Linked DNA regions of Homo sapiens: all the other regions are linked to region 3. Evidence: fine-mapped expression QTL. A gene starts in region 3. Each other region holds a variant in brackets. All regions are shown on one strand. Distances are from middle to middle. Region 1 has its middle 82 kb from the start of MIR5192. Region 2 has its middle 130 kb from the start of MIR5192. Region 3 holds the start of B3GNT2 (UDP-GlcNAc:betaGal beta-1,3-N-acetylglucosaminyltransferase 2). Region 4 holds the start of LOC105374764 (a long non-coding RNA gene).

Region 1 (7,993 bases), 92 kb before region 3:
GGTCAGTTGGTTTCCAGAATACAAAAGTCTGAAAAAGATCTCAAAAGACAAATCTTAGGTTCTACTATAGGAGCAACTGAGGAAGTTGCAAACCTTCTGACCTCTGGCCACATGACTCCTGAGCAGCAAAGAATTGTAGAAACTATGCCTATATTTTAGCAGAATTCAGTCCTTTCCCACAATCCTAATTAGTCTTGCAAAGGCAGTTTTAGTCCCCAAACAGGGAGGGGATATGTTTTAGGAAGGGACTGTTATCATCTTTGCTTCCAAATTCAACTATAAACTAACTTCCTCCCATGGTTAGCTCAGCCTGTGCCCAGGAATGAGTGAAGACAGCCAGCCTGTGAGGCCAGAAGCAAGATGGAGTCAGCCATGTTAGATTTCTCTCATTATCACCATCTTTGCAAAGGTGGTTTCATTATTTTGTCTGTGCTTCTTGCCAACTGGCTATTGATCCAGGTTCCCATGCCCCCCTCCTTGGGTTCAATTAATTTGCTAGAGTGGCTCACAGAACTCAAGGAAACACATTTACCGTTTTTTTTTTTATAAAGCTTATTACAAAGGAAATGAAGAGATACATAAGTTGAGGTATGGAGTCTGGAGCTTCCGTGCCCTCTCAGTATTTGCCACCCTCCCAGAACCTCCTCATGCTCAGCTGTCCAGAAGCTCTCTGAACCAGAACTTTTCGGGTTATTATGGAGGCAGGCATGATTAAGCCATTGGCCTTTGGTGCTTAACCCAAACTTTAGCCCCCTCTCCTCCAAATGAAGAGATGCATAAGATAAGGAATTGCAGGGAGAGCTGAAAGTTCCATCCCTCTAATCCTGCCTTGGTCTTTTTGGTGACCAGCTCACATCCTGAAGTTAGGTAGGGGCTGCCAGCCATGGATCAACTCATTAGCAAACAAAAAGACTTTGGAGTTCCCAAGGATTTTAGGAGTATGCTAGGAGACCGGAATAAGACTCTCTCTCTCTCTCTCTCTCTCTCTCTATATATATATATATATATATATATGTGTGTGTGTGTGTGTGTGTGTGTGTGTGTGTGTGTGTGTATATATATATAATTTTTTTTAGATGGAGTCTTGCTCTGTCACCCAGGCTGGAGTGCAGTGGCACAATCTCAGCTCACTGCAACCTCCGCCTCCCGGGTTCAAGCGATTCTCCTGCCTCAGCCTCCCAAGTAGCTGGGACTACAGGCACCCACCACCATGCCTGGCTAATTTTTGTATTTTTAGTAGAGATGGGGGGGTTCACCATGTTGGCCAGGCTGGTCTCAAACTCCTGGCCTCAAGTGATCCACCTGCCTCAGCCTCCCAAAGTCCTGGGATTACAGGCATGAGCCACCACGCCCGGCCCAAATATATATTTTACAATATTATACTAGGCCTCTTCTCTTCACTAGCAAGTCTCCTCCACCCTGAGCATCTGGGAACCAGGTCTGCGCTGGTCCTTCATACTCCCCACCACAGCCTCCTGAGGTGGGAATTAGCACCCTGGGACAACTGGAACTCCAAGATTAAGTAAACCTAAACCATTTGTCTCCACCTTGTCTTTCTGCCAATGATCTTTTGGACTCACATGTAGGTCATCCCATGTCCCTGTTAAAAGTAATTTTGAAGCCAATCACAAAAGGCCACATATAGCATGATTCCATGTGTATGAAATGTCCAAAATAGGCAAATCGATAGAGACAAAAAGTAGGTGAGTTGTTGCCTATAGCTGGGGGGTGGTTGAGGGATGGGTGACTAAAGGGTACAGGGTTTCTTTTTGAAGTGATGAAAATGTTCTAAAATTGATTATGAAGATGAACAGGCAACCTTTGTGACTGTACTAAAAAACACTGAATTGTGTACTTTAGATGGGTGAATTGTAAATTATATGTCAATAAAGCTGTTAGAAGAAAAACCAATGATTTTTGCAGATTTTGACCCACAAGATGATCTGCCATTTGCTATATTACATGTGGATATATATGATGTCTCTGTGTCCACTCAGTTGGAAAAGGCCTCCGAGGCCCATTTGGGATCTCACCTGCCTACTCCAGCTGTGAGCATGGAAGGGAAATGAGCTATTTGGGTTGTCAAGAATGTGACAGGAAGGGATCAGCAGAGGCTCTAGGTGGAGGCAGGATGAAAACGTGGAAGCCTTGCACCACACGTTGCACCACAGCCCAGACTCAGGCTCCCAGAGCTCTAGGCTCTCACTGGGCTGGTGGTGAAATGGTGGTGCTGTGAGGTCTCCATTTCCATTGAGAAGTCAATAGAAGATCTCTCAAAGCTGTACCTCCTCCTCTCTCGGGAGGGTTCCAGGGCCCCTGGACAGTCTCCCTAGACATAAGTGTGCCTTAAGATATTTGTGCCCTTTGCTATGTGGGCCTGGGATGGCCACAGCTCTTGGGCTGGTAAGCTCAGGCCTCTAGCAACCTATCCAGGGCTTCGAATTTCCTACAGTGAGCCATGTAATGCTGAGAGGTGAAAATGGTTGGCTGACATGGTTGCTTTGCCCAGTGGTTTTCAAAGGGTGGTCCCAGGACCAGCAATATCAGCATCACTTGGGAACTCTTCAGGAATACAAATGCTCAGGCCATCCCAGACCTATTGAATTGGAAACTCCACAGGTAGGACCCAGGAATCTGTGTTTTAACAAGCCATCCAGGGGAGTCTGATGGACATGAAAGTTTGAGAATCATGATATAGATCCTGAGGTCCCTGAAGCAGAGGGACACATGCTGGTTCTGGATTGCATCCCCAGCACTAGCGACGTCTGCTATAAGAGGCGGTCATGAAGATTTTGTTGAATAAGTGAATGAACGCATGGTTTAGCTTATTTGTGATGGACTGCTTCTCTCTAACCAGCTGCCAACGAGAATATTTGCAAGCTGATAAAAAGAGAAGGGTGTGAGTATATCTGATCGTTCACTCCAGCTTCTTGTTGGCTCTGTTTGATCTCTGAATTATTAAGCAGGACTCATGGCCCATTTCACGTTTTCTTTTTAGAGATGAGGCCCTGGCTCTTTGACAATTTTTTTTTTCTAACCTCCAGAAACAAAAGCACTTTCCATTTGATTTCAGAATCAAGTTCTCCCACTACATCATTCTGGCCCTGGAAGGAAAAGGAGGATGCAGCTAGAAGGATGTTTTTGCATTTTCAAGTTCAAATGTACTCAAATTATTAAACATCTGGCTCTCAGGAGAACCAAGAAACACAGGCCAAGCACTTCTTAGAAATCCTGGGGGATGGGCAGGTTATGCACAGCAAATAGTAGGCCCATTTCCCATTCAGAGTTAGCCAGTGGCCAGAGGCTGGGTGGAGCTTGGTGCCTTCTCTCCTTGGTTTTGGATTATGGGCTGACTTTCAGATTCTCTGAAACTGCCACCTCCCTCAAATTCCCCAAAGCCAGGATTTCTTTGGGCTCACACCTCCTGAAACTAGCTGCTCTGTCACCCAGTGTGGT[G/A]CCCTTTCTCCTGTAACCACATACATTTCAGCTGGTGAGAGACTGGCCCCAGACAGACTGGGCACAGTGCCAGGACACTGAGGCATCCTCTGTTTCAGGAGCTCCTGGCTCCCTGCCACCAGCCCCACCCCTCACGAGGTCACCACACTCAACTGACAGGCACTAATCACCCTCTGAGCCATCTCACCCACAATGGACATCCAACACCCTCTATCTTTTTAGAACCAGACCCCTGCAGCAGTCTAATAGAACAACCAGGCTAAGAAACTAATTGCCCCAGGCTGGGTACGGTCGCTCACACCTGTAATCCCAGCACTTTTGGGAGGCTGAGGTGGGCAGATTGCTTGAGCTCAGGAGTTCAAGACCAGCCTGGTCAACATGGCAAAGCTGGGCATGGTAGTATGTCCTGTAGTCCCAGCTACTTGGGGGACTGAGGTAGGAGGACCGCTTGAGCCCCAGAAGTTGAGGGTGCAGTGAGCTGAGATTGCACCACTGCCTGGGGGATAAAGTGAGGCCCAACAAAAAAAAGAAAAAGTAACTGCCCCTTGTTTTCTGGGCTGTAGGCGCATAATGAAAAAAATGAACTATACCTCTCCTCCTATTGGATAGCCAGGCCTCAAGTCCTGGGGCATGGGTTTCCCCTACCCAGAGAGGTGAAGGCTTTATTTTTAGGAAGTGAGTAAAGAGCTGGTGGGATGGCTTGGAAGGAGGCTAGAGAAGGAAGCAGCCAAAGTGGAGGGAAGGATGAGGTGCGTGAGCCATCGGCCTTCTGCAGGCCTCATGACTGGGGGATCTGCACCCTGGGAATGACACGTCCTGAAGGTCAGCGACTGTGGCACCAGAGGCAGAGGCCTGAGAACCTCTGCAAAGAAGTGTCCTAGCTTGGTTTGAAGGAGGAGGAGTCAGCCGGGCGCGGTGGCTCACGCCTGTAATCCCAGCACTTTGGGAGGCCAAGGTGGGCGGATCACGAGGTCAGGAGATCGAGACCATCCTGGCTAACACGGTGAAACCCCGTCTCTACTAAAAATACAAAAAAATTAGCTGGGCATGATGGCGGGCGCCTGTAGTCCCAGCTACTCGGGAGGCTGAGGCGGGAGAATGGCGTGAACCCGGAGGCGGAGCTTGCAGTGAGCTGAGATCGCGCCCCTGACCTCCAGCCTGGGCGACAGAGCGAGACTCCATCTCAAAAAAAATAAAAAATAAAAAGAAAGAGGAGGAGTCATGAGCATGGATGAGATCAGAAGGGCTGTGGACAAATTGCACGAGGAGAAGCAGCCAATGCTGGACCGAAGACGGGGCCTCTTCCCTCTTCCCTAAGACAGTGTAAGCCTGGGCGTCACATGCACACCTTGGGCTGGGTGGATGAAGTGGGGGAGGAGGGAGGAAATCCTAAACAATGACAGAGACTGATTTCCCACTAACCCTAGTGGGGGGAGCATATGAATTTGATTTGTCATTTCTCACACTTTGGGATTCTGAAGAATATTTCACCTCTCCAATAGACTGTAAACTCCTAGTGACAGGGGACAGGTCTTTCACTTTTTACAGAATACCCCTCCCTGGCACTTAACAGTGACAGGCACATCGTGGGCGATGGATTGACTGGGAGCGTATTATCATTTCTACATGGTAATTTTCTTCTCCTGATTCTCCTCCTCCTCTTCTACCGTTCATCTTCTTGCTATTTCTATCCCTACTCCTCTTCCTCCTCTACTTCTACTGCTTTTTAAATTAACTTTCTCAGGTATAATTTGCATACAATTGAATGTACCTTTTTACTGTGCAGTTCTATTAGTTTTTAGATGCTCACTCCATCACAGTCAAGTTGGAGAACATTTCCATCACCCCCTGATTTCCCTTGACTGCCTCCTCGCAGTTAATTCCTTCTCCCACCCCCAGCCTCTGGCAATTTCATGTCAATAGACTCACACAGCATATACTCTTCTGTGTATGGCTTTCTTTGCTTAGCATGATGTTTTTGAGAAGTATCTATGTTCTTGCATGCATCAGCGGTTTGTTCATTTTATTATTGAGTAGTAGCCCTTGTGTTGAAACTGCCTTTGCAAAGACTATGATAGTGAGAGAAATATAACACAGCTGACTCCATCTTGCTTTTAGCCTCGCAGGCTGGCATCTTTGCTCATTCCTATGCACAGGCCAAGCTAACCATGGGAGGAATTTAGCTTACAGTTTAACTTGGAAACAAAGACGATAATAGTCCCTCCCTAAAACTAACCTCTGCCCCCTTGCTCAGGGACCAAAACTAATGAAAGGCCATAAGATTAGGATTATGAGAGGAGACATGAACTCTGCTAAAATATAGGTGTAATCCCTTCCCTCCCCTTCCCCTTCCTCTTCCCCGCCTCCACCTCTCCCTTCCACTCCCCTTTCCTTCCTTTCTTTTCCTTTCTTTTTTGAAACCAGGTGTCACTCTGTCCCCCAGGCTGCAGTGCAGTGGTGCCATCACAACTCACTGCAGCCTCAACCTCCCAGACTCAAGTGATCCCCCTACCTCAGCCTCCTGAGTAGCTGGGACTACAGGTGTGCACTACCACACCCAGCTAATTTTTGTATTTTTTGTAGAGATGGCATCCCATCATGTTGCCGAGGTTGGTCTTAAACTCCTGTGCTCAAGCAATCCTCCCACCTCAGCCTCCCAGAGTGCTGGGACTACAGGCATGAGCTATTATGCCCAGCTGTAGGTATAGTCTCTATAACTCCTTACTGCTCAGGAGTCACATGGCCAGAAGTCACAAGATTTGTGATTTCTCCAATTGCTCCAACAGATAACATCACTATTGTAGAACCTAAGATTGGTCTTTTGAGATGTTTTTCAGACTTTTCCATTCTGGAACCCAACTGACCCCACCTGGACTTGTGACTCATGACTCAACTGGTCCGTGGCCCCCGACCCAGAGGCAGACTCTGTGCACAAGGACTGTTTTCCATACTCCTATGATTGCATCCTCAACCCAATCAGCAGCACTCGTTCCCTAGTCCCTCACCCACCAAACTATTCTTTAAAAACCCTAACTTCCAAGCCCTTGGGGAGACTGATTTGAGAGATAACACCAGTCCTTCCACTAGGTGGCCTTGTATTAATTAAATCCTTTCTCCACTACAATACAACGGTCTCAGTGATTTGGTTTTGTCTGTGCAGTGGGCAGGAAGAACCTGTCAGGCAATTACAGTATGACTATACCATAGTTTGTTTATTCATTCCTCTGTTGATAGACATTTGGGTCATTTTCAGATTGGGGCCACTATAAATAATGCCATGAACATTCATGCGTAAGTCTTTTCATGGGCGTATGTTTCATTTCTCTTGGATAAATACCTAGAAGTGCTAGGTTCCATTGTAAGTATATATTTAACTTAACTTTCTGAGAAACTGCCAAACTATTTTCCAAAGTGGTTATACATTTTACATTTCTACCAGCAATGTATGAGAATTCCAGTTGTTCCACATCCTTGCCAGCAAGATTGACAGTTGGTTCTGTCAATCTTTTAATCCTAGTCATTCTAGTGGTTAGGTAGTGGTATTGTATTGTGGTTTTAATGTGCTTTCCTCTGATAAATAATGATGTTGAGTACCTTTTAGTATGTTTATTGATATATTTTCTTTTTTTTTTTTTTTTTGAGATGGAGTTTCACTCTTGTTACCCAGGCTGGAGTGCAGTTGCACAATCTCGGCTCACTGCAACCTCTGCCTCCAAGGCTCAAGCGATTCTCTTGCCTCAGCCTCCCGAGTAGCTGGAATTACAGGCATGAGCCACCAGGCCCAGCTAATTTTTTGTATTTTTAGTAGAGACAGACTTTCACCATGCTGGGCAGGCTGGTCTCAAACTCCTGACCTCAGGTGATCCGGCCATCTCAGCCTTCCAAAGTGCTAGGATCACAGGCATCAGCCACCACACCCAGCCTTAGGTATTCATATATTTTCTTTTGTGAAGTCTGGTCAAATCTTTTGTGCACATACATACATATATACACACACATTTAAATGAAACAAGGTCTCATTACATTGCTGAGGCTGAACTTGAACTCCTGGGCTCAAGCAATCCTCCCAACTCAGCATCCCAAGTAGCTGGGACTATAGGCATGTACCACCACACCTGGCTCTATCCTGGTTCTTTTATTTGTTCTTACACAAGCAACTCTTGCTGTTGCATCCAAATAAGAAATGCAGAAAAGCAAAAGGAAAACAATCAAAATCCTACCAACTGGCAAAGGATTGTGACATTTCTCCAAAGAAGATAAATGACCAATAAGGATATGAAAAGATGCTCATTGTCAGTCATGAGGGAAATGCAAATCAAAATGACAGTGAGATGTCATGTTACATCATCCATTAACAGGGTTGCTATTATAAAAATACAGAAAATGGGCCAAGCACGGTGGTTCACGCCTGTAATCCCAGCACTTTGGGAGGCCAAGGCAGGCAGATCATGAGGTCAGGAGATCGAGACTATCCTCGCTAACACAGTGAAGCCCCGTCTCTACTAAAAATACAAAAAAAATTAGCCAGGTGTGGTGG
Region 2 (7,993 bases), 140 kb before region 3:
GACTAAGGGTGTTCATCTCACTCATCGGTGCTCACGATTACGGGTCACACTGTGCCAGTGATATGTCCAGCATCCCAGGTGACAAAAGCTCCCATGTGGTCTTCAATAAATTTAATTTTTGTGTTTGTGACATGCAAGGCCCTCCAAAGGGTAGAGGGCCTCTTGCCTGGTCTAAGGGCAATATTGCACTGGCCCCAGATTCCAGGAAATGATGGAGGCCTTGCTTGGGGATTTGTCTATGAACAGTGACTAAGGAAAAGCACTAATGGCTATTCAAACTTGATGTCTATCTCTCTCATTTTTTTTTTCTTTTTTTGAGATGCAGTCTCACTCTGTCATGACCAAGCTGGAGTCCAGTGGCGTGATCTTGGCTCACCACAACCTCTGCCTCCCAGGTTTAAGAGATTCTCCTACCTCACCCTCCTGAGTAGCTGGGATTACAGGCACACGCCACCATGCCCGGCTAATTTTTGTATTTTTAGTAGAGATGGGGTTTCACCATGTTAGTCAGGCTGGTCTCGAACTCCTGACTTCATGATCTGCCCACCTCGGCCTCCCAAAGTGCTGGGATTACAGGTGTGAGACACCACACCCAGCCGATGCCTATCTCTTGACACACCAATCCAGCTTTAGAGAAGATATCCTATAGAAACAAAAGGACTAATAGAGAAGGGTACGTAAAAATGTCTGTCACAAGCATCGCTTAATGTAGCAAAAAGTGAAAAACAACATATACATCATTAACGGGAGATGGTTTCGTGAATTGTGATCTATTCATATTAGCACATGTTATAAAACCATTGAAAAGGTTGTTATATTTATGTTTAGTGACTTGGAGAGATTTCTTTATTGAATATTTACTGAGCATCATCTATGAACCTAGTACTGTTTAAATGCTAGGGATATAGCAGGGAATAAGACAAGGTTTTTTGCTCATGCATTTCACATCTTAGTGGAGGAAGACAGGCCATAAACAAATAAATAAGTATATAGTATCAGCTGGTGAGAAATGCTATGAAGAATAATGGTGGTGGGTTGGGGGATGGAGCCCGGGAGGAAGTGAGGGAAGGAACATTGTGGCCATCAGGAGGACGGGCATTCCAGACTGAGTGCCAAGGCCCTGATTTGGGAATGTGCTTAGTGTGATCTAGTAGCATCAAGGAGGCCAGGGTAGCAGGAGATGGGGATGGGAGGGAAGGTCAGAGAGCAGAGCAGGGATGTTGGGGGGCGGGGGATGTATATGCATGTTGTAGACCACGTAGGGCCTGGCAGCTCCTGGTGAAGACTTTGGTTTTGGTTTTTTTGGTTTTTTACTGATGGGGTCTCACTGTGTTGCTCAGGCTGCATTTGAACTCCTGGACTCAAGCAATCCTCCTGCCTCAGCCTCCCGAGTAACAGACAATGAATGCACTCCCCCCACCTGGCTAAGATAGGTTTTTACTCTGAGTAGAATGGAAACCAGTTAAGATTTCTAAGCTGAGGAGCAACGTGATCTGACAGATTTCAAAGGGTTCCTCTGGCTGCTGTGAGGGGAATGGACTGAAGGGACAAGGGTGGAAGCAGAGAGGGGTGTAGAGGCTGCTGTAGCTAAGTGAGAGAGACAGGATTGGGCTTGCACCAAGTGGAAGCCACGAGGTGGGGGGATGCAGTCTGATTCCAGATGGATTTTGAAGGTGGAGCCTGCAGGACGTCCTGATGGAACTGGATGTGGGGTGTCAGCAAGAAGCCAGACGGCCATTTAATAGTGTTAATGACTAAGGCTAGTTTCAGAGGAAAGAGAGTATAGCCCAATCCCATTTTTGCTCAAATAAACATCAAATAAGACACACTCCCTGTGCACGGATCTTTGTGTATACTAATCCGAGTCTATTAGTTGGCTAGGGCTGCCATCACAAAATACCACAGACTGGGTGGCTTCAGCAACAGAGATTTATTTTCTCAGTTCTGGAGGCCGGAAGTCCAAGATCAAAATGCTGTCAGGGCTGCTTTCTGGTGAGGCCTTTCTTCCTGTCCTGTAGACAGCTGCCTTCTCCTATGTCCTCATATGGCCCCTTCTTTGTGCTTGCTTAGGAGAGAAGTGGGAGCTCTCTCGTGTCTCTTTCCCTTCTTATAAGGACAGCGGTCCTTTTGGCTTTAGGCTGCACCCTTGTGACCTCACTAAATCTTAATTAGCTCCTTGTAGGCCCTGCCTCCAAATACAGTCGAATTAGGGGTTTAGGGCTTCGCCGTATGAATCTGGAGGGACACAATTCAGTCCATAACAATGAATACAGAGAAAGCTGCAGAAGGACATCCACAAGCCATTGCACTCCAGCCTGGGTGACAGAGCAAGACTCTGTTTCAAGAAAAAAAAAAAAAAGAAACCAACTTTCTAGCAAAAGGATCCAGAACATACCATGGTGAAGAGAGTTTCTTTCCTAAACTCCCCTTTCTGCCTAAAAGCAGAGCCTCCCAAAAGAATGCAACCATCATAGATCCCCTTCCCAGAGGTTTCCCAACCATGGAAGAGTGACTCCCTTCACCAGAGGGGAAGCCACAAGGCTATAAAAACTCTCCTAAATAGACATGGTCACAAAACTATCATATCTCCCTCATATCTATTTGCCTTAGGGCCCATTTATCTTTTCTAGAAGTCGCTGGTTTTCCAGTCTCCTTTCTCTCCATCCCCTTCTCCTATTAAGGGTGTATATTGTGTCATAAAATGTCAGAGCTACCGCCAAAAGACAAAGGTCTTTCATCTGAGAGCCTGTGAAAAAGATATATAAGCCCCCAATCCTAATCACCTCTTTGAGCCACATTTTTCTGTGAATTCCCATGTATGTATGTGAGTAAAATTCTGTTTTTGTTTTGCCAATCTGTCTTTTGTCAGTTTAATTCACAGGCCTCCAACACTGAACCTAAGAGAGTGGGGAGAAAGTGTTTCCTTTCTCACAGCTGTCACCTCCTCAGAGGGGTTTTTCCCTGGCTATTCTATCTCAACTAGGCCTCTTTCTCCTTTTTGTTTCCCACAGCATTTACCATACCTTATTCTGACTTTATTTGTCTGTTTACTAGGTTTTGGTCTGCCTTTCAGTAGAATGTAAGCTGCATGGAGGCGTATAATACAAATTCATTAACTACTCAGTGAATGACTGGATGAGGAAATCCGTCATCCTTGGCTCAGGTATTTATTGGTGAGTCTACAAGTGGCAGCTCAGTTCAGCACTCACTCACTGAGAACTTATTAGGTGTCACGATGGTGCTCGGCGTTAGGAACACACAGAGGCCCACTCCCTGTCCTCGAGGAGCTTACAGGAAAACAAGCAGCTATGCTGGGCCCTGGGAGAGGCAGGTATGAGCAGGAGAACCTTACTCTTCCCTCAAGAAGTTTACTGGTATAGGAGGCAGGGAAGAGAAAAAGGAAAACACGTGATAAGGAGCTTGGAAACAAACATGACTCCAAGTACAGTTATTTAGTACACAAATAAAACAGAGATGGTTAAACTATTCTCTAGGCCTTTGTTTAGGGAATAATTCACATCATTCTAATTACAGGGTTGTGAGAATAACAACAGTGTTGGATGGAGCTCATGGTACTTCTGCTTCATTTAGACAAATCTGCCTAAGGAGAGCCCATCCCCTACATACACAGACCCGCTGACAGGCATCGCTGGTTTCTCTTGGAAGCTTTCCAAGTGGCAAGCCTGGCGCCTAGGCTAGTCTTGGAGCCTCTAAAAAGCCTTTCAGGGCTGCCTCCCTACCTCAGTCAGGGCCCCATTAGCTATAAAGGCCAGAGATATACTGAAATTACCCCACCCCTCAAAGAGCACGTAAATAAAAGGGAGAATTTATTGAAATTATTTCAATGCACAGGAACCCAAGAGAAACTGAATAACTAGGCCAGGCCTAGTGTTCTCCGAAAGTGTTCTCATTTCTTCAGATTCCTGAGTTTAAATTTCCATATTCCCCTATTCTCCCCCCAGGTCAGGTGTCCGTGCTGCGGTACAATCATCCCACCCCTGTAAAAACAAGGCCCCCTAGGCCAGAGGAGATAACTCCAAAAGACAACCAGATGGGTGGAGTGATCAACCTTTGTGGTTCATCTGGGACTGAGGGATTTCATAGGGAGCATGGCTTTTAGAGCTAAAACCAGGAACGTTCCAGACAAACCTGGAAAAGTTAGTAATAAGTTCAGCCAACGTCACATCCGTTTCATGCCCATACATCATTAATTTTTTTTTTTTTTTTGAGATGGAGTCTCGCTGTGTTGCCAGGCTGGAGTGCAGTGGTGGAATCTTGGCTCACTGCAGCCTCTGCCTCCCGGATTCAAGTGATTCTCCTGCCTCAGCCTCCCGAGTAGCTGGGACTACAGGCACGCGCCACCATGCCCAGCTAATTTTTGTATTTTTAGTAGAGATGGGGTTTCACCGTGTTGGCCAGGATAGTCTCAATCTCTTGACCTCATGATCCACCCACCTCAGCCTCCCAAAGTGCTGGGATTACAGGCGTGAGCCACCGCACCTGGCCCCCTTCATCATTAATTTTAAGCAACACATTTCTTCATATTTAACATCACTGAAACCAGGATGTGTTTTAAAATGAGTGGCGTCCTGCAATGCGAAGCTGAGTTCTCC[T/C]GGAAATGATGCACAGCTGCCAGTCACTTCTAGGTCACCACCAACCTGAGACCACATTAAATTAATTTTCAGCTTGACTTTTTCAGACCACACTGACAGCATGAATTCAGACCTCAAATCTGCATGAGCACAGGCTCGTGGTTCAAATTGTCAGGAGAGAATTGTTGTTCCTCCCTCCACAGTGTCAGGATTGAGACGTGCGCATTTCCAGCCTGCCACTCCTGTGGGAAGACTTATTTTCTTACAGCATCCCAGCTTTTAAGTGGTGTCTCCATATTTGGCTTTTTTTTTTCTTGCATAATGGTACATAAAATAACAGTGCAGCTTACAGTGGATGGTGTCTCCAGTTGGATGAAATACGGGTAATCCTCAACCCCCACCAGCCGCTAGTGCTGGAAGGAGGCTCAGTTCTGTGGAACCCTGGCTTCTCTGGGTGGGAAGAGAATGCTGTCCCGGGTACCTAGGGCTGGATCCTGAGGATATAGAAAGAGTTCTCTCTTGGCCCTGATGAGCTTTTCTCTGAGCTCACTGGCTTGCAGAGCCTGGCAGCCCATTTGGAAAAGTTCTTCACCAGTCTCTCTAGACATATCAGTGTTTAGATAGCCTTCCTTCCCTACAAACACAAAGCTCATTTGTTTGAAATGTTGCAAAACTCCTCCTAACCACTGCCACATGTAGAAAACCCATGGAAGCAGAATTGTAGGAGAATAAGAAGGAGAGGCAGTGTTTCAACTTGAAAACTGGTAGACATGCTTTTTTTTTTTTTTTTTTTTTTTTTTTTTTTTTTTTTTGAGACGGAGTCTTGCTCTGTCGCCCAGGCTGGAGTGCAGTGGCGTGATCTCAGCTCACAGCAACCCTCTGCCTTTCGAGTTCAAGAGATTCTCCTGCTTCAGCCTCCTAAGTAGCTAGGATTACAGGTGCACACCAATACCCCTGGCTAACTTTTTTGTATTTTTAGTGGAGATGGGGTTTCACCATGTTGGCCAGGCTGGTCTCAAACTCCTGGCCTCAGGTGATCCACCTGCCTCGGCCTCCCAAAGTGCTTGAGCCACCATGCCCCACCTGGTAGACATGCTTTCTAACCCCCAGGTTTTCTTTCCCTCCCCCAGGGTGTTCAGCATTTCCTGAATATGTGATACCCCATCCCTATCCTCAGCTCATTCAGTTGACCTTTCCCCAGTCCCCCACCCAAAGCCACTCACCCTCAGGCTGGCTCACCTGTCCTCAGACCCCATCGTTTGTCTTTCTGTGTTGGGGCTCAGGACACACCACCCAAAAATATTACTGTAGGAGACCCAAATATGCCACCCCAAAATACACTTCATTGGTATATTTTGAGCTGGTTATTCTGAGAAACTGCAGACAGGGGTAGCTCTGAAAAGCTTTCTTTTTATAAAAAAAAAAAAACACATCTATAAAGGAAGTTTACCTTAGTAAAAGTATCTGTATTAGGAAGAAGGCTGCTTAGACAAGCTTTATTACCTGAGAGACTTTTCATCTGTGTAAGGTAACCCCCCAGAAGCCCCAAGCCCCTGTTCCTTTCTGTAGCTCAGGATGCTATATAACCTCCAATCATTTGGCCCTTCTGTGACTCTCCTGTTTCTGTGGGTCTCCCATGTGTATGCATGGAATTAAACATGTTTTTCCCCCTGTTAATCTGTCTAATGTCAATGTAATTAGTAGCCTAGCCAATGAACCAGAAGGATAGAGGAAAGCCATTTTTCCTCTCCAATACCTGGTATCATTTCCCAGCTTCCTGAGTGCCAAGGTCTGAATGTTTGTGTTCCCCCAAAATTCCTCCTCTCTGGTTAAAATCCTAACCCCCAAGGTAATGGTGTTAGGAGGTGGGTTGGGGGGGCCTTTGGGGGTGATTAGGTTGTGAGGGCTGTGCCCTCATGAGTGGGATTAGAGCCTTTGTAGAAAAAGCCCAGGGAGCTGCCTTGCTCCTGTAAACCAAAAATAAAATTCTAAGCCCCGCACCATCTGCACAGACCCCTCCTCTTGGCAAGGGCATTCCAAAGCTAACCTGAAAAACTAGTTCAGGCCATGATGGAAAGGAGGGGTCAGACTGCCTCCCTATACCCTCCTCCTTTTTGGAATTACTGATAGAACAGACTCTTTAAGTCTGATAAGAAACATTTACAATCTATTCTCTCTGAAGCCCACTACCTAGAGGCTTTACCTGCATGAGAAAACCTTGCCTCTACAACCCCTTATCTTATCCCAGGCATTCCTAAGTCTTTAGACAATAACTTAACTCTTTCAACCAATTGCCAATCAGAAAAATTTTTGAATCTACCTATGACCTGGAAGTCCCCCACTCCTTCCTGTTGTCCTACCTTTCTGGACCAAACCAATGTACATTTATGTGTATTAGATTGATGTCTCATTGATATGGTTAGGTTCTGTGTCCCCACCTAAATCTCATCTAGAAGAGTAATCCCCATAATCCCCACATGTCAAGGGAGAAACCAGGTGGAGGTAATTGAATCAAGGGATAGTTCCCTCCATGCTGTTCTTGTGATAGTGAGTGAGTTCTCATGAGATCTGATGGTTTTATAAGGGACTCTTCCCCCTCCGCTCAACACTTCTCCTTCCTGCTGCCTTGTGAAGAAGGTGCCTTGCTTCACCTTCTGCCATGATTATAAGTTTCCTGAGGCCTCCCCAGCCATGCTGAACTGTGAGTCAATTAAACCTCTTTTCTTTATAAATTACCTGGTCTCAAGCCATTCTTTATAGCAGTATGAAAAAGGACTAATACACTAATGTTTTCCTAAAATGTATAAAACCAAACTGTGCCCTGACCACCTTGGGCGCATGTTCTCAGGCCCTCCTGAGGGCTGTGTCATGGGCCATGGGTCACTCATATTTAGCTCGGAATAAATCTCTTCAAATATTTTACAGAGTTGGACTCTTTTCATCGACACTCCTTCTACCAAGTGAGGACACATTGAGACGGCGCCATCTATGAACCAGGAAGCAGACCTTCAACAGACACTGAATCTGCCAGAACTTTCATCTTGGGATTTCCCAGCCTCTACAACTATGAGAAATACATTTCTGTTGTTTATAAGCTGCCCAGTGTATGGTATTTTGTTACAGCAGCGTGAATCAACTACTTCCAGCCCAGGGCAGGGACTGTGTCCCCCTGCTGTGTTCAAAGGCAGGGCTCAAACCCAAGGCCAGCCACAGTGAAGCCCCAGGTGGGTGTAGAGGCCTCTTGCCCTGGGGGGAAAGTGGTACACCTTATACTCTGCAACGACCTTCCCAGCTCTGCCAGACCACCCGGGCTAAGGAAAGGGAAGGCAGGACAGGTATGCAAACTCCAGGCTCACAAAGAATTCTGAGGTTTTGTGAGCGCTAAGAATCCAGTTTACGCA
Region 3 (6,492 bases):
AAAAATTCATAATTTTTGAACAACAAGCAAATCATGCTTATTTTCCTCAAAATACTACTTAGGTTTTAAGAACCTTCTGATGTGCATCTGCCAAATGTGGCTGATTTCAGTCTCAGACAGGGAAATCTAAAAGGCTACCACAGGGTTACTGTTTTTGGTAAGGGGAAGTCGATGCCAGGAGGAACTTCTCTATTGATTACAGCAATGACCACCATTTATTAAGCACTTCTTAGCTCTCCTGGTGCAGTGCTAGGAGTTTGGCAAACATCCTATTTGTCCTCAGAAATAATCTTGCAGAGCAAACACCACCATCCCCAAAACCAGATGTGTAAAATGAGGCTCAGGTGAAGAATAACTTGCCCAAGATCACTGAATTAAATGTGGCAGAATCAAGTCTAATGAATGGCAAGGGTGAGAACTGGTCAGTTTCACAGAGAATTAGGCCTTCATCATACAAATGCCGCCTGCACAAAAACTAAATGAGAAACAGTGAACCCTTGCTGTAGGGAGAAAAAGCAATATTCCGAACTAAAAAAGTAGTTTCAAACAGAAGATCTAATGATAAACACATTTGTAAAGTCTGAGCAGGGAGGAAAAGGATTACTCAAATTACTCAAGTACAGCCCTATGGGGCTCCTTCACTTCTGTGTTCTTAAAATCTAATCTGGTTTAAGAGCGCATGGGCTCCGAGTAAAACTCTCCCAAATTCCTCCAGGCTTAACCACCCTCTACTCAAAAGAACCAGGAGCAGGAGTTAGGACAATGGGAAGTGACCGCCCTGCCCTGCCCTGCCGGTCCTCCCTCCGGGTCAGCTGTCAGATCCGCATGGGTGCGACTATAAGCCGGCACCGGAGCCCCGGGACTGGCTCGGCCAGGGTCCCCGCCTTTTCACTCCCAGTCCCGGCCCTGTCGGCCACCTCGTTTACCACCTCCAGAGGCACAAATAATTATACCGGAAGAATTTGTTTTAACAAGTAGAATTCTATATTCACCAACTGGCTTCGCTATCGGATATTACGGTAGGGTTCCAACAAGAGAAGGGCAAAAGAATATAGTTTAATTGTTCTAAACAATCTTTCTGAGAAGTTGGGGTGGCTGAGGCGGCCACGGGGATACAGCTCAGGCACCTGTGAGCTAAGCCCACTCTACAAACTAACCACCCCTACGTTTTGGGCAGAAGAGCGCCGCCTCGCCAACCCAGGTTATAAATGTACATATTTTTAAAGATGAGCTTTGACGCTGTGACACTTGTGGGGAGTCTCCCGACGGCTCCTCTACTTGATGGGGGTACAGGGAGTTCTGCGGCTCCCCAGCCCCGAGTTTCAAATACCGTGGCCTGGAAATTAACCGGGTGACTCGGTTTATTGCCTCCAGAAGGGTCCGCCTGCCGTGCTGGAGTAGCCGCCAGTCCCGCGCCCGCAGCCCCGGCAGGGCCCCCCACGCCCACCTTCCCACGAGGGGTGTCTCGTAGAGTCCGGCTTCAGGCGCTCCCTGGCCTGGCAGCACCCACCCCACCCCGCCCCACCCCACCCCCACGACTCGGGCTAGCAGCCTGGTTAATCATTCAACGCAAACAGTGTGGAATATTTTTTTTAAAAGGTCAAAGCGAAAGGTTTTCCCTAAGTTTGGCAGAAACCAGTTTTGGGGGAGCCGGAGACAGAAGTGGCAGAGGTTGGGGGTGGGGGGTGGGGAGCGGCTGCCGGCGGCTCTTTGGCTCACAAAACACCTGATCTCCCCATGCGGCACGGGAGGCCGGCGCAGTGCGAGGGTGGGGTGCGGGGGTGCGAGCGAGGAATCACGCGCGCCCCCCTCCCCGAAATGCCCGCGCGCCCCGGATGAGGAGGCCCGGCCCCAGATGCCCCTTGCCAAAGCCCGCATCGCCCCGGCGCCGGATCCCCCGGAAGTTGGGGTGCAGCGAGGAGGGGGAAGGTCCCCGGGCTCCAGGGCGAGGTGGGCACGGAATGGGTTGGGAGGTTCCAAAGCCCCGCAGCGGGCGGTGTCCCTCTCCTCTCCCTCTGGGCTGAGGTTGGGTGGCTGGGACGGCGGGAAGGTAAGGGAGGCTTAAATGCGGCAGGAGCCACCTAGGGACGGCTTCCTCCACCGGGGCGCGGGTACGAAGCCGGAACCGGCGAGGAACCGGGCGGGGGTAGCAGGGTGTCCGGAAGGTGGGGCCGGGAAGCAGGGAGGCGGAAGGGGACTGGTAGAGGGGCCTGGCGGTGAGAGGGCAGCGGGGAGGGAGCCGGCGGGGGTGCTCGGCGCCCGGGCCCTACCTTGTCCGGGAGCAGCTCCAGCTCGGCGGGGCGGGGGCAAGGGCGGGAGATCGCGGCCACATCCACGTCCCGGCCGCTCCGCGCGGCTCAGCCCGGCGACCGCCGCAGCTCACGCTCCATGCGCGGCGCCCCGGACGGGCGGCCCGGCGGTGTCGGCGGCAGGGACTGCTCCGGCTTGGCTCTGCTAGCCTCCGGCACTTGTTGCCGCTGCTGCCGCTGCCGCTGCGCCTCACTCCAGGCTCCGGTTCCAGGCGCAGCAGCCGCCGCGGGCGCCCGGCCCCGCCCCTCCCCTGCCCGCCCGCCAATGGGGCCCGGCCCCGCCCCTCACGTCACCGCCCGACGGCCCCGCCCCGCGCCCCAAGTTTTGGGAGGGTTCCGCTCTCCCCACCCGGTACCAGGACCCACCCGGGCCCGCGCTCCCTGCGGCTTCCAGGGACCCTCCAGCCCCCACGCACCCTCCTGCAAAGCCGAGGGTTAAGCTGGGGAAAGGGGGCCTCTAGGAAGGCGACCCCCCTGGAAATGCCTGGCAGCTCCAAAAACACTAATGAAACTCAGCTCCAGCCTCCGCCCCTCCAGTTGTGGGTGGCCCCTCTTGCGGTTCGTCTGAGGCTAGGGGACTAGGCGCATCGCCTAGCGAGACTCCAGTGGCCTTTTCTGTCCAGTTTGTAACCGGAACTAGACCGACCCCGGCCGCCCCCTCCAGTGCTGGGGCGGGTGAGGAATGGCCCCGCCGGGGAGGCGGGGGAGGGAGGCCTGGGCCACCCTGGGGTCTGACCTTTGCTCCACCTCTTAGGTGCTCACGACCCAGAGTGGTGCCCTGCTTGGTACTGCCACTGGATCCTCTGGCTTATGAAGCCGTCCAGGACAGGAAGGGTGGGGGGTGGTCCTTAGTTCTCTTCGTGGGGTCATGCAGAGTGGTTTCCTCGAGGTCCCACGCCCGTCTCAGGAAGCCAGAAACGCAAGATGCCGGGCGCTCGGCCCGAACCCGTGCCGCGGCCCAAGGGGCAAGGCGGATACCGAGGCAAGGCCTAAAGGGCCGGACTCTGACCGCACCCTCCGGACACTGCAGGGCTCCGCCGGCCAGAGGCGGCCTTGGCGCCAACCACACCTAGCAGCGGGGTCCCCGGGCCCACCGATGCGCCCTCCTAGCCCCGCGCTCCTTCGAGGGGTTCCAAGGTGACTCAGAGACGCAGCTGACACAATTCTGAGGCCCCCAGGTAAGCCTGGCGATACCGGATGGAGAAGTTACCTGGTCTTGAAAGGCCCAGTCCAGCCAGCGAGACCCGCGTGCGCTCCGCGGGGAGGCAAGCCTAACCAGGGGCTCACCTGGAAGCGTCCCCGCCCCCTGGTCCTTATCTCTGAATCGAAACCGAACCTGGACCCATCTAGATAATTGGACTGAGCAATTAAGGACGCTTCGCTCCTAACTGTTAGCATTTTTTCCTAAGGCTCTCGGAGGCGGAATCAGCTGGAAAGGAACATTGCTAAGTAGGAATTTCAGGCACCTGTGAACTGAGCCCACTCAATAATCGGCCCTTTCCCTTAACCAAACTCAGCAAAGGAAGAAAGACCAAGTTGCTGCGGATGCACAGAGCCACGTGGGTGCGGGTCCTCTAGAAACAGGAATTCAGAGTCAGTAGATATGGAAATGTTATGGTTTGCAGTCTTCGGACCATGCTGCTTTCATGCTGTTCACATGATTCTCCTCGGACTGCGAGGTAAAGTCCAAGAAACAAGTCGAATGTTTGTATTTTCATAGAAAAAACATCTGTAAGGGTGCACACCGACTGTTAACCACGGTTACGCGGGGAGGGGAAACAAGGGAGTTACATTTTTTTACTCCCTTGACTTTGGATTTTGTATTTTTCCAGTTGTATTTACTTTCATAATTTAGAAAGCTAATAAAACATGTTTAAAGAAACAGAAGCTAGAAATTCTCTAAGAACTCTAGGAAGTAGAGGCCGGGCGCGGTGGCTCACGCCTGTAATCCCAGCACTTTGGGAGGCCGAGGCGGGTGGATCACAAGGTCAGGAGTTCGAGACCTGTCTGGCCAACATGGTGAAACCCTGTTTCTACTAAAAATACAAAAATTAATGGTGACATGTACCTGTAATCCCAGCCACTTGGGAGGCTGAGGCAGGACAATCGCCGAACTCAGGGAGGCGGAGGTTGCAGTAAGCCGAAATCGTGCCACTGTACTCCAGCCTGGGTGACAGAGTGAGACTCTGTCTCAAAAAAAAAAAAAGAACTCTAGGGAGTATAAATTAATAAATGAAGTCTATGTCTTCATTCTGTATCAAAATAATATTGAGTCCATGTTCCTGGGTTTAAATAAAGATATCTCTAGGCTGCTGTCTGATATTTAAATGCAGTGTTGAGACAAAGCGGACATCTAAGGAAGATTTTCTGTGCCATCAGATTGGTATATTGTTTCCATGCATATGTGTCTTCCCTTTAAATGCACTCCCTGTAGCCACAGACATGCTTGCAAGAACGGCCAGCCAAGGAGTTTATAGTAAAGGAGCTGCTACAATGTCAGCTGGCAACCAACTAGGAAATTAAGCTTGTGTCCCTCGCTGCCCAAGGCTGCCCAGGCCATGAAATTTAAAAATAAGGGTATTCTTAGGCCAGGCACGGTGGCTCATGCCTGTAATCCCAGTACCTTGGGAGGCCAAGGTGGGCGGATCACTTGAGGTCAGGAGTTCAAGACCACCCTGGCCAACATGGTAAAACCCCGTCTCTACAAAAAATACAAAAAAATTAGCCAGGTGTGGTGGTGGACACCTGTAGTCCCAGCTACTTGGCAGGCTGAGGCAGGAGAATTGCTTGAACTCGGGAGGTGGAGGTTGCACTGAGCCGAGATCGTGCCACTGCACTCCAGCCTGGGCGACAGAGCAAGACTCCGTCTCAAATAAATAAGGGCATTTTCTCCATGGTGGCTTTAACACAGTTGGGAGTATATCTACAATAGTTACCTTGTGTCTTTTGGGGAGTAACTCAATGCTAGATTCCACATCGCTTGGCTATAGTCCCTACTGTTAGGTTGGGACCCAGGTCCATCATCAGTAGGCAGAGATGTGTTATTCACTTATTCAACAAAAATGTACTGGCCATCCTCTAGATGCAGCACAGGACTAGGCGCTGGAGTGGTGAACATGGCAAACACACTCCCTGCTTGGAGCTCACAGTCTAGCTGGAGAGAGGGGCTTAACAATTAAATGCACTATTAATTAATTACAATTGTGATATGGGCCACAGGGAGTGCAAGGTGGTGAGATCATCTGGGGAGTCCATGAGGAGTTCCTGGCTGGTTCAGACTATAAAGGAAGAAGTGGTTGAGGAGGAAGTTAGAGAGGCAGGCAGGGGTTAGATCACGCAGGGCCAGTACACCACATTACAGAGTTTGGACTTTATCCTGAGACATTTGAAACAAGAGTCATACACTCAATTTTGCATTTTGAAGTAGATCACTCTGACTGCAGTGTGAAGAAGGAATAGGGAAAGGGGAAGAATGGAATGGAGGGACAGTTAGGAGGCTGTTGCTATAATGTGAGAGGGGCCATTTGTTTAAGCAGTAGAGCAAATGTAGAGAGGTAGACACCAACGAGACTTGGTAATTGCTTAGGGGGGATGAATCAAGGAAAACTCCCAGATCTCTGCTTCTTTAACCAGATGGATGGTGGTGCCATTTTCTGAGTTGGAGAACCCTCTCAAGGTTCAAATTTGGTCAAAGTAGGTTTGAGGTGCCTGTGAGATGTCCGGGTGGAGATGTTGAACAGGTGGTTGGCTGCAGGGTCTGGGGCTCTGAGGAGAGGCTGGGGCTGGAATAGCTGGTGTGGCAGTGGTAATGAAGTCACCAGAGGCTTGTGGGCTCCTATGAGAGTGTACAATTAGATCAGAAGAGGACCTACCACTGAGCCTTGAGGAACTCTTATCTAAGGGCCAGACAGAGGCAAACCTCTGGCAGAGGAGGTGGAAGAGCAGCCAGAGAGGCAGGAGGAAAACCAGGAGCTTGGCCAGGTGCAGTGGCTCACGCCTGTAATCCCAGCACTTTGGGAGGCCGAGGCAGGTGGATCACCTGAGGTCAGGAGTTTGAGACCAGCCTGGACAACATGGTGAAACCCCATATTTACTAAAAATTAGCTGGGCGTGGTGGCAGGCGCCTGTAATCCCAGCTACTTGGGAGGTTGAGACAAGAGAATCGCTTGAACCCAGGAGGTGG
Region 4 (7,993 bases), 220 kb before region 3:
CAGAGATATTGGCCTGTAGTTTTCTTTTTCGGATGTGTCTTTGGTTTTGGTATCAGGGTAGTACTGGCCTCGTAGAATGAGTTTGGAAGTATTCCCTCTTCCTCTACTTTTTGGAATAGTTTGACTAGGATTGGTATTAGTTCTTCTTTAAATGTTTGGTAGAATTTAGCAGTGAAGTCATAGGGTCCCAGGGTTTTCTTTAGTGGAAGGCTTTTTATTACAGCTTTAATCTCATTACTTGTTATTGGTCTGTCCAAGTTTTGGATTTCATCATGGTTCAATCTTGGTAGGTTGTATGTGTCTAGGAATTTGTCCATTTCTTCTAGATTTTCCAATTTATTGGCATATAATTGCTTATAGTAGCTACTAATGATTCTTTGCATTTCTTCAGTATCAGTTGTAATATCTCCTTTTTCATTTCTGATTTTATTTATTTGGATCTTCTCTCTTTTTTTCTTAGTCTAGCTAAAGGTTTGTCAATTTTGTTTAACTTTTCAAAACACTAACTTTTTGTCTTGTTGATCTTTTATATAATTTTTTTCATTTCAATGTCATTTATTTTTTCTCTGATCTTTATTTTTTTTTTCTTCTACTAATTTTGGTTTTGGTTTGCTCTTGCTTTTCTAGTTCTTTAAGACGCATCATTGATTGTTTATTTGAAGTTTTTCCTCTTTTTTGTTGTAGGCACTTAAAGCTATAAATGTCCCTCTGAGTACTGCTTTTGCTGTATTCCATGGGTTTTGGCATGTTGTGTTTCCATTGTCATTCATGTCAAGAAATTTTTCAAATTCCCTCTCAATTTCTTCATTGACTCATTGGTCATTCAGGAACATATTAATTTCTATGTATTTGTATAGTTCCCAAAATTCCTCTTGTTATTAATTTCTAGTTTTATTCCATTGTGGTCAGAGAAGATGCTGGATATTATTTTGATTTTTTTGGATGTTTTAAGACCTGTTTTGTGACCTAACATGGTCTATCCTTGAGAACGAGCCATGTGCTGAGGAAAGGAATGTGTATTCTGCAGCCATTGGATGAAATGTTCTGTAAATACCAATTAGATCCATTTGGCCTATAGTGCAGATTAATCTGATGTTTCTTTGTTGATTTTCTGTCTGGAAGATCTGTCCAATGCCGAAGGTGCGGTGTTGAAGTCTCCAGCTGTTATTGCACTGGGGCCTATCTCTCTCCTTATCTCTAATTAATATTTGCTTTATATATCTGGGTATTCCAGTGTTGGGTACATATATATTTAACATTGTTATATCCTTTTGCTGAATTGACCCCTTTATCATTATATAGCGATCTTTGTCTCTTCTTATAGGTTTTTGTTTCAAAATATATTTTGTCTGATATAAGCATAGCTACTCCTGCTCTTTTTTGGTTTCTGTTGGCATGGAATATCTTTTTCCATCCCTTTATTTTCAGTGTATATGTGTCTTTATAGGTGAAGTGTGTTTCTTGTAGGCAACAGATCAATAGGTCTTATTTTTTCATCCATTCAGCCAGTCATTCTATGTCTTTTGATTGGAGAATTTAGTCCATTTACATTCAATGTTATTATTGATAAGTAAGGACTTATTCCTGCCACTTTGTTATTTATTTTCTGGTCTTTTTTGTCTCCTTCCTGTTTCCCTTTAGTGAAAATGGTTTCCTCTGGTGATATGATTTAGTTTCTTGCTTTTTATTTTTTGTGTATTAATTGTATGAGGTTACCATGAGGCTTGCAAATGCTATCTTATAGCACATTTTTTTTTGAGACGGAGTCTCGCTCTGTCCCCCAGGATGGAGTGCAGTGGCATGATCTCGGCTCACTGCAAGCTCCGCCTCCTGGGTTCATGCCATTCTCCTGGTTCAGCCTCCTGAGTAGCTGGGACTATGGGCTCCTGCCACCACGCCCAGCTAATTTTTTGTATATTTAGTAGAGACGGAGTTTCACTGTGTTAGCCAAGATGGTCTCCATCTCCTGACCTCGTGATCTGCCTGCCTTGGCCTCCCAAAGTGCTGGGATTACAGGCGTGAGCCACCGCGCCTGGCCATAACACATTATTTTAACCTGATAACAACTTAACACTCTGCATAAACAAACAAGCAAAAAGAAAACTAATAAAATCTCTATGGCTTAACTTCATCCCCCAGCTTTTTAAATTTTTGTTGTTTCTATTTATATATCTTTTTTTTTTTTTTTTTTTTTGAGACAGAGTCTCGCTCTATCACCTAGGCTGGAGTACAGTGGCATGATCTTAAAGCAATTCTCCTGCCTTGCCTCCTGAGTAGCTGGGATTACAGGAATGCACCACCACACCCAGCTAATTTTTGTATTTTTACTAGAGACAGGATTTCACCATGTTGGCCAGGCTGGTCTTGAACTCCTGACCTCAAGTGATCCACCCGCCTCAGCTTCCCAAAGTGCTGGGGTTACATGTGTGTGCCACTGCACCTGGCCTATTTTTATCTTATTTTACTGACTATGTCTTGAAAGGTTGTTGTAGTTATTATTTTTGACTGGTTCATCGTTTATTCTTTCTACTTAGGATAAAAGTAGTTTACAAACTACAGTTACAGTGTTATCATATTCTGTGTTTTTCTGTGTATTTACTATTGGCAGTGAGCTTTGTACCTTCAGATAATTTCTTATTGCTCATTAATGTCCTTTTCTTTCCAATTGAAATCTCCCTTTAGCATTTCTGGTAGGATAGGTCTGGAGTTGATTAAATCCTTCAGCTTTTGTTTGTCTGGGAAAGTCTTTATTTCTTCTTCATGTTTGAAGGATATTTCACCGGATATACTATTCCAGGGTAGTTTTGTTTCCTTCAGTATTTTTAATATGTCATGCCACTCTTTCTTGGCCTGTAAAGTTTTCTACTGAAAAGCCTGCTGCCAGATATATTTGGGCTCCATTGCATGTTATTTGTTTCTTTTCTCTTGCTGCTTTTAGAGTCTTTTTTTTATCCTTGACTTTTGGGAGTTTGATTATTAAATGCCTTAAGGTAGTCTTCTTTGGGTTAAATCTGCTTGGGGTTCTTGATTATTTACTTATTGACAATATTATTGTTTTCTGCTAATAACAAAACAACAGCCAGCTAGTTCTAGAAGCTCCTCATGCAGATTATAGGCCTCCTCCCTGGATGGCTGTTGGGTTAGATTACAAAGAATGATTTCTAATCCTCTATTTTATTATTATTATTATTATTATTATTTTGAGACAAGATGCTGCTCTATCACACAGGTTGGAGTGCAGTGGTGCCATTACAGCTCACTGTAGCCTCAAACTCCTGGGCTCAGGCAATCCTCCTGCCTCAGCTTCCCAAGTAGCTGAGACTACAGGTGCACTCCACCATGGCTGGCTAATTTTTTCATTTTTTTGTAGAGACAGGGCCTTGCTGTGTTGCCCAGACTGGCCTCAAACTTCTGACCTCAAGTGATCCATCTGCCTTGGCCTCCCGAAGTGCTGGGATTACAGACATGAGCCACCGAGCCCAGCCCAATCCTCTCTTTAAAAATGACTTTTCTTATTATCTTTTTTTTCTGACTAAAAAGGAAATTTCTTG[T/C]GTTAGTTTCCTATTGCTGCTATAACAAATTATCATACACTTAGTGGCTTAAAACAGCACAGATTTATTATCTCATAGTTCTGGAGGTCAGAAGTCCAAAATGGGTCTCTCTGGGCTAAAATCAAGGTGCAACAGGACTGTATTCCTTTTGGAATCCATTCACCTTTTGCACCTCCTAGAGGCTTCCACATGCCTTGGCTCATGGCCCCTTCTTCAAAGCCAGCCATGGCTGGTCAAGCCTTCCTCACATCATATCACATCACTCTGACATTCACTCTTCTGCCTCCCTCTTCCCCATTTTATTTATTTATGTATTTATTTTGAGACAAAGTCTTGCTCTGTCACCCAGGCTGGAGTGCAGTGGCGCGATCTCAGCTCACTGCAAGCTCCACCTCCCGGATTCACGCCATTCTCCTGCCTTATCCTCCTGAGTAGCTGGGACCACAATCGCCCACCAACACATCCAGCTAATTTTTTTTTTTTTTTGTATTTTTAGTAGAGACGGGGTCTCATCGTGTTAGCCAGGATTGTCTCAATCTCCTGACCTCGTGATCTGCCCGCCTCGGCCTCCCAAAGTACTGGGATTATAGGCGTGAGCCACCATGCCAGGCCCCTCTTCCCTGTTTTAAGGACCTTTGACATTGCACTGGACTCCCCTGGATGATCCAGGATACACTCCCCTTCTCAAAGGCAGCTGATCAGCAACCTTCATTCTATCTGTAGACGTAGTTCCCTTTTGCCATGTAAGCTAGCATATTCACAGGTTCTGAGGATTACGAGGTGGACATCTTTGATGTTATTATTCTGCCTACAACATACACATTCCTTGTAGAAAATGTAGGAATACAGAAAAGGCATAAAAGAAAGTACATGACACTTCTAATTCCACTTCCTGGAGATAACCACTGATGATGGCTTAGTGTATATTCTTCAAGTCTTTTGTTCAGTGCATATGTTTTTTTCTTTGTAAACTAGGTTTGCATGATAATATATAATCATTAATGTTAAATTACTATATATAGTGAATTACTAAATATATATAGTATTTAATATTAAATTACTAAACACTATATATATTACTAAACACTATATATAATAGTGTTATATATAAAAAATGTTTAGTAATTTTCCTTAATAATATGCATATATTCCCATGGAACTATATATTTTTCCACATTTCATTTTAATGGCTATCTAGCATTCTACTGTGTGGAATGTACTATAATTTATTTAACTAATTTAGTTAATTCTCTGTTATTAACCACATAACTTATCTCTAGCTTTTCTTTAAGCCTGGTACCCCTGTGGTAAACATCCCTAAATCTACATCTTTGTACATATTCTTAGGATACATTCCCTAAAGGCACACCAAAGGTTGGGTGATTATATCATTTATTCTACAAAGCAGGATTCTTTGAGAGTGAAAAAAGATAATATTAAAAATCCATAGTAATTAATAAATAACAATAAGCCAGGACTGTTCTGGGCGTGACACACATTGCCAGATTGGCCTCCTGAAATGTTTACACTCCCACGGGCAGCTACCAAATGTCCTTGCTCTAAGCCCTTGCCAATGCTGCCAGTCCTATACCCCTACACCCTCTTACTCTCTAGATCCCATCTTCCAAAAAACAACAACCACACACACTGCAAATACCATGAGAGCCCTCACTGGAGATGTGACAGTGGTTGGCAGAGCTGTTTCTCATGGCAGGGAGAGGACAAGTAAGTCTTTGCCCTGGTTAACAATGATTTGACATTTGGTGAGTTCATTTTGTCTTCTGATCCAGGTACATCCACTGGATTAGTTTCAAGGCAGCAATGACCTGCCTTCCTTACCTGCACACAGGCCCAGGTACAGGCTCAGCCAGAAGAGGAATCTCCCAGGAGGGCCTCTCCCCAGGCCCAGGCAGGGAAGCACTGCCATGGATAGCATCTGCCAGGACAAGCTGACCTGCACAAGAGACAGTCCACCGTGAAGAGCCGAGCATGAGTTGGCAGCTGCTGTCAGCTCAAATTGTCCAGTACGCAAACTTGGTCTTCAGAGGACTGACTTCCTCTTGGATAGAAGAACCCTCTGAAACCATGACTGTCAAGAACACACCCAAATAAAGCAGCTGCCGAAACCACAAAAACAGAAAGACTAGATTCATTGTGAAGATGTTTTCTAACATTCAAATGGGCTTTTGTTAGTTTTGTTTTTGATTTTGGTGGAGGTCATTTGAGTCTTGTTATCAAGGTTACAAAGTGCTCTCTGGGAAAAGATCCGGGCCCATTTACCAGGCTGCCTTGCCTGGCTTTGCTTCTCGGGTATGAAATGAACATTGAGAATGCAGACACTGAAGAAAAGACCTCAGGTATCTTTGACTTTTTTTTTTTTTTTTTTTTTGAGACAGGGTCTCAATCTGTCACCCAAGCTGTAGTGCAATGGCACGATCTAGGCTCACTGCAACCTCTGCCTCCCAGGTTCAAGCAATTCTCCCACATCAGCCTCCTGAGTAGCTGGGATTACAGGGGCGTGCCACCACACCCAGCTAATTTTTGTATTTCTAGTAGAGATGGGGTTTCACCATGTTGGCCAGGCTGGCCTTGAACTCCTGACCTCAAGTGATCCATCCACCCTGACTTCCCAAAGTGCTGGGATTACAGGCGTGAGCCACCATGCCCAGCCTATTTTTGACTTTCTGAGTCAAGTAACCAGATGAAACCAGTCCCCTTGTCCACCCAGAGTCCACTCAGGCTATACTTGATTCATACTTTTTTTTTAATTTTTATATTTTTTTTAGAGACAGGGTCTCATTCTGTCACCCAGGCTGGAGTACAGTGGCACAATCACGGCTCACTGCAACCTCGAACTACTGGGCTCAAGCAATCCTCCTGCCTCAGCCTCCCAATTAGCTAGGACTACAGGCACGTGCCACCATGCCTGGGTAATTTTTTAATTTTTTGTAGCAATGGAGTCTCACTATGTTGACCAGGCTGATCTCAAACCCCTGGTCTCAAGCAACCGGCTCCCTTTAGCCTCCCTAAGCACTAGGATTACCGGTGTGAGCCACCACACCTGGCCTGATTCATATGCTAGACTCATATGCTAGAAAAGCCAACCCCAAATGGGCCCTGATAGAGCAATCTTGTTGGGGACAGTTTTACTTGTAAGTAACTGGCTCCCTGACCTACAGAATATAAGCCTTCAGAAAAAGCTTCAGAAAAAGCTCAGCACCCTGCCTCTCTCCTCCAAATAATGTTCCAGGTGATATTCTGCAAGCACACCTGGAAACTTTGCTCTGTTTGTTAACCTAGAAAATTAAATGAGCAAGGGACAGAGCAGGCTGGCCTGGAACAGGGACTGGGTACAAACCAGATCTCCAAAGCTTGGGCTTATTCTCTGAAAGAAATGCTCTTTTTAATTTCAACTCTGATGTCTTGGTGGAGACATTCAACTGGAGATCTGGAGTCTTTGATATAAGCAAAGGCAAGCTTGTGGGATCACCACTGGCTACAGAAAGAAGCCCAGCTCTTTGGCAAAGAAAATCCTGGGCTCAGAGAGTGAAGAGTGTGTCAGATTTCTCACGTCAAAAGTCAGCTTTTGTATTCAGAATGGAGCCAGAAGGTCCTGAATCCAGAATGGCCTAGAGCCTCCCCACATGCTGTCCTAGCGGGGGCTTTAGCAGGTGGATTTTGATAAAGATAGCTTTGGATGCTAAGCATAGAAAAAAAGAGAAATGTTGGCTCTAGGCTGGGTATGGTGGCTCACACCTGCAATCCCAGCACTTTGGGAGGCCAAGGCGGGTGAATCACTTGAGTCCAGGAGTTCAAGACCAGGCTGGGCAACATGGCAAAATCATCTCTACAAAAAATACAAAAATTAGTCGGGCATGGGGTCACCCACCTGTAGTCCCAGCTACTAGGGAGGCTGAGGTGGGAGGATCAATTGAGTCCATGAGATCAAGGCTGCAGTGAGCCGTGTTTGCGCCACTGCATTCCAGCCTGGGTAACAGAGAAAGACCTTGTCTCAAAAAAGGAAAAAGAAAAAAGTTGGCTTTAGCACCTCGAACCCTAGATGACTTCCTGAGTGTCATATTCTTTGGCTGCTACTCTGGAGTCACATCTCAGGGAAGATCCAGACAGACGGCTTTGGTCTTTGTGTTTGTAGGTCCTTTTTCCCTCAGATACTCACCTGCCCTACTCCCTCACCTCATCTATGCCTTTGCACAGATATTAGCAGATATCTGTGCTGATAAAAGTTGCGACTGCACCAGGCACAGTGGCTCACACCTGTAATCCCAGCACTTTGGAAGGCTGAGGCAGGAGGACTGCTTAAGGCTAGGGGTTCAAGACCAGCCTGGGCAACACACCAAGACCTTATCTCTGAAAAAAAAAAAAAAAGTTGTAGCTCATCAATTACCCTATCTGAAATAGCCCTGAATCCCCTGCCTTATTTT

The links. PIP is the estimated chance that this variant, and not a neighbour inherited with it, causes the effect.
Region 1: its variant is the best candidate, but not a certain one, in a credible set for the expression of B3GNT2 in lung (TOPMed, PIP 0.64).
Region 2: its variant is the best candidate, but not a certain one, in a credible set for the expression of B3GNT2 in blood mononuclear cells (TOPMed, PIP 0.66).
Region 4: its variant is the best candidate, but not a certain one, in a credible set for the expression of B3GNT2 in T cells (TOPMed, PIP 0.68).

What each region holds. Positions count from the first base shown.
Region 1 is chr2:62,283,630-62,291,622 of GRCh38, reverse strand. No RefSeq gene overlaps it. Among named protein-coding and RNA genes, the nearest start is that of MIR5192, 82 kb to the right of the region's middle. RefSeq lists a silencer at 3,455-3,749. The variant G/A (reference allele first, on the strand shown) is at 3,457.
Region 2 is chr2:62,329,818-62,337,810 of GRCh38, reverse strand. No RefSeq gene overlaps it. Among named protein-coding and RNA genes, the nearest start is that of MIR5192, 130 kb to the right of the region's middle. RefSeq lists an enhancer at 3,578-3,807. The variant T/C (reference allele first, on the strand shown) is at 4,614.
Region 3 is chr2:62,192,134-62,198,625 of GRCh38, reverse strand. It overlaps B3GNT2 (UDP-GlcNAc:betaGal beta-1,3-N-acetylglucosaminyltransferase 2), which reads right to left and starts at 2,511. Exons shown (of 2, transcript NM_006577.6): 1 at 2,271-2,511. It overlaps LOC124906013 (a long non-coding RNA gene), which reads left to right and starts at 2,613. Exons shown (of 2, transcript XR_007086336.1): 1 at 2,613-3,487; 2 at 3,719-4,637. RefSeq lists enhancers at 1,116-1,225, 2,206-2,812, 3,419-4,026 and silencers at 1,636-1,985, 2,166-2,605, 2,896-3,125.
Region 4 is chr2:62,412,827-62,420,819 of GRCh38, reverse strand. It overlaps LOC105374764 (a long non-coding RNA gene), which reads right to left and starts at 5,627. Exons shown (of 6, transcript XR_002959390.2): 1 at 5,391-5,627. RefSeq lists an enhancer at 5,396-5,465. The variant T/C (reference allele first, on the strand shown) is at 3,552.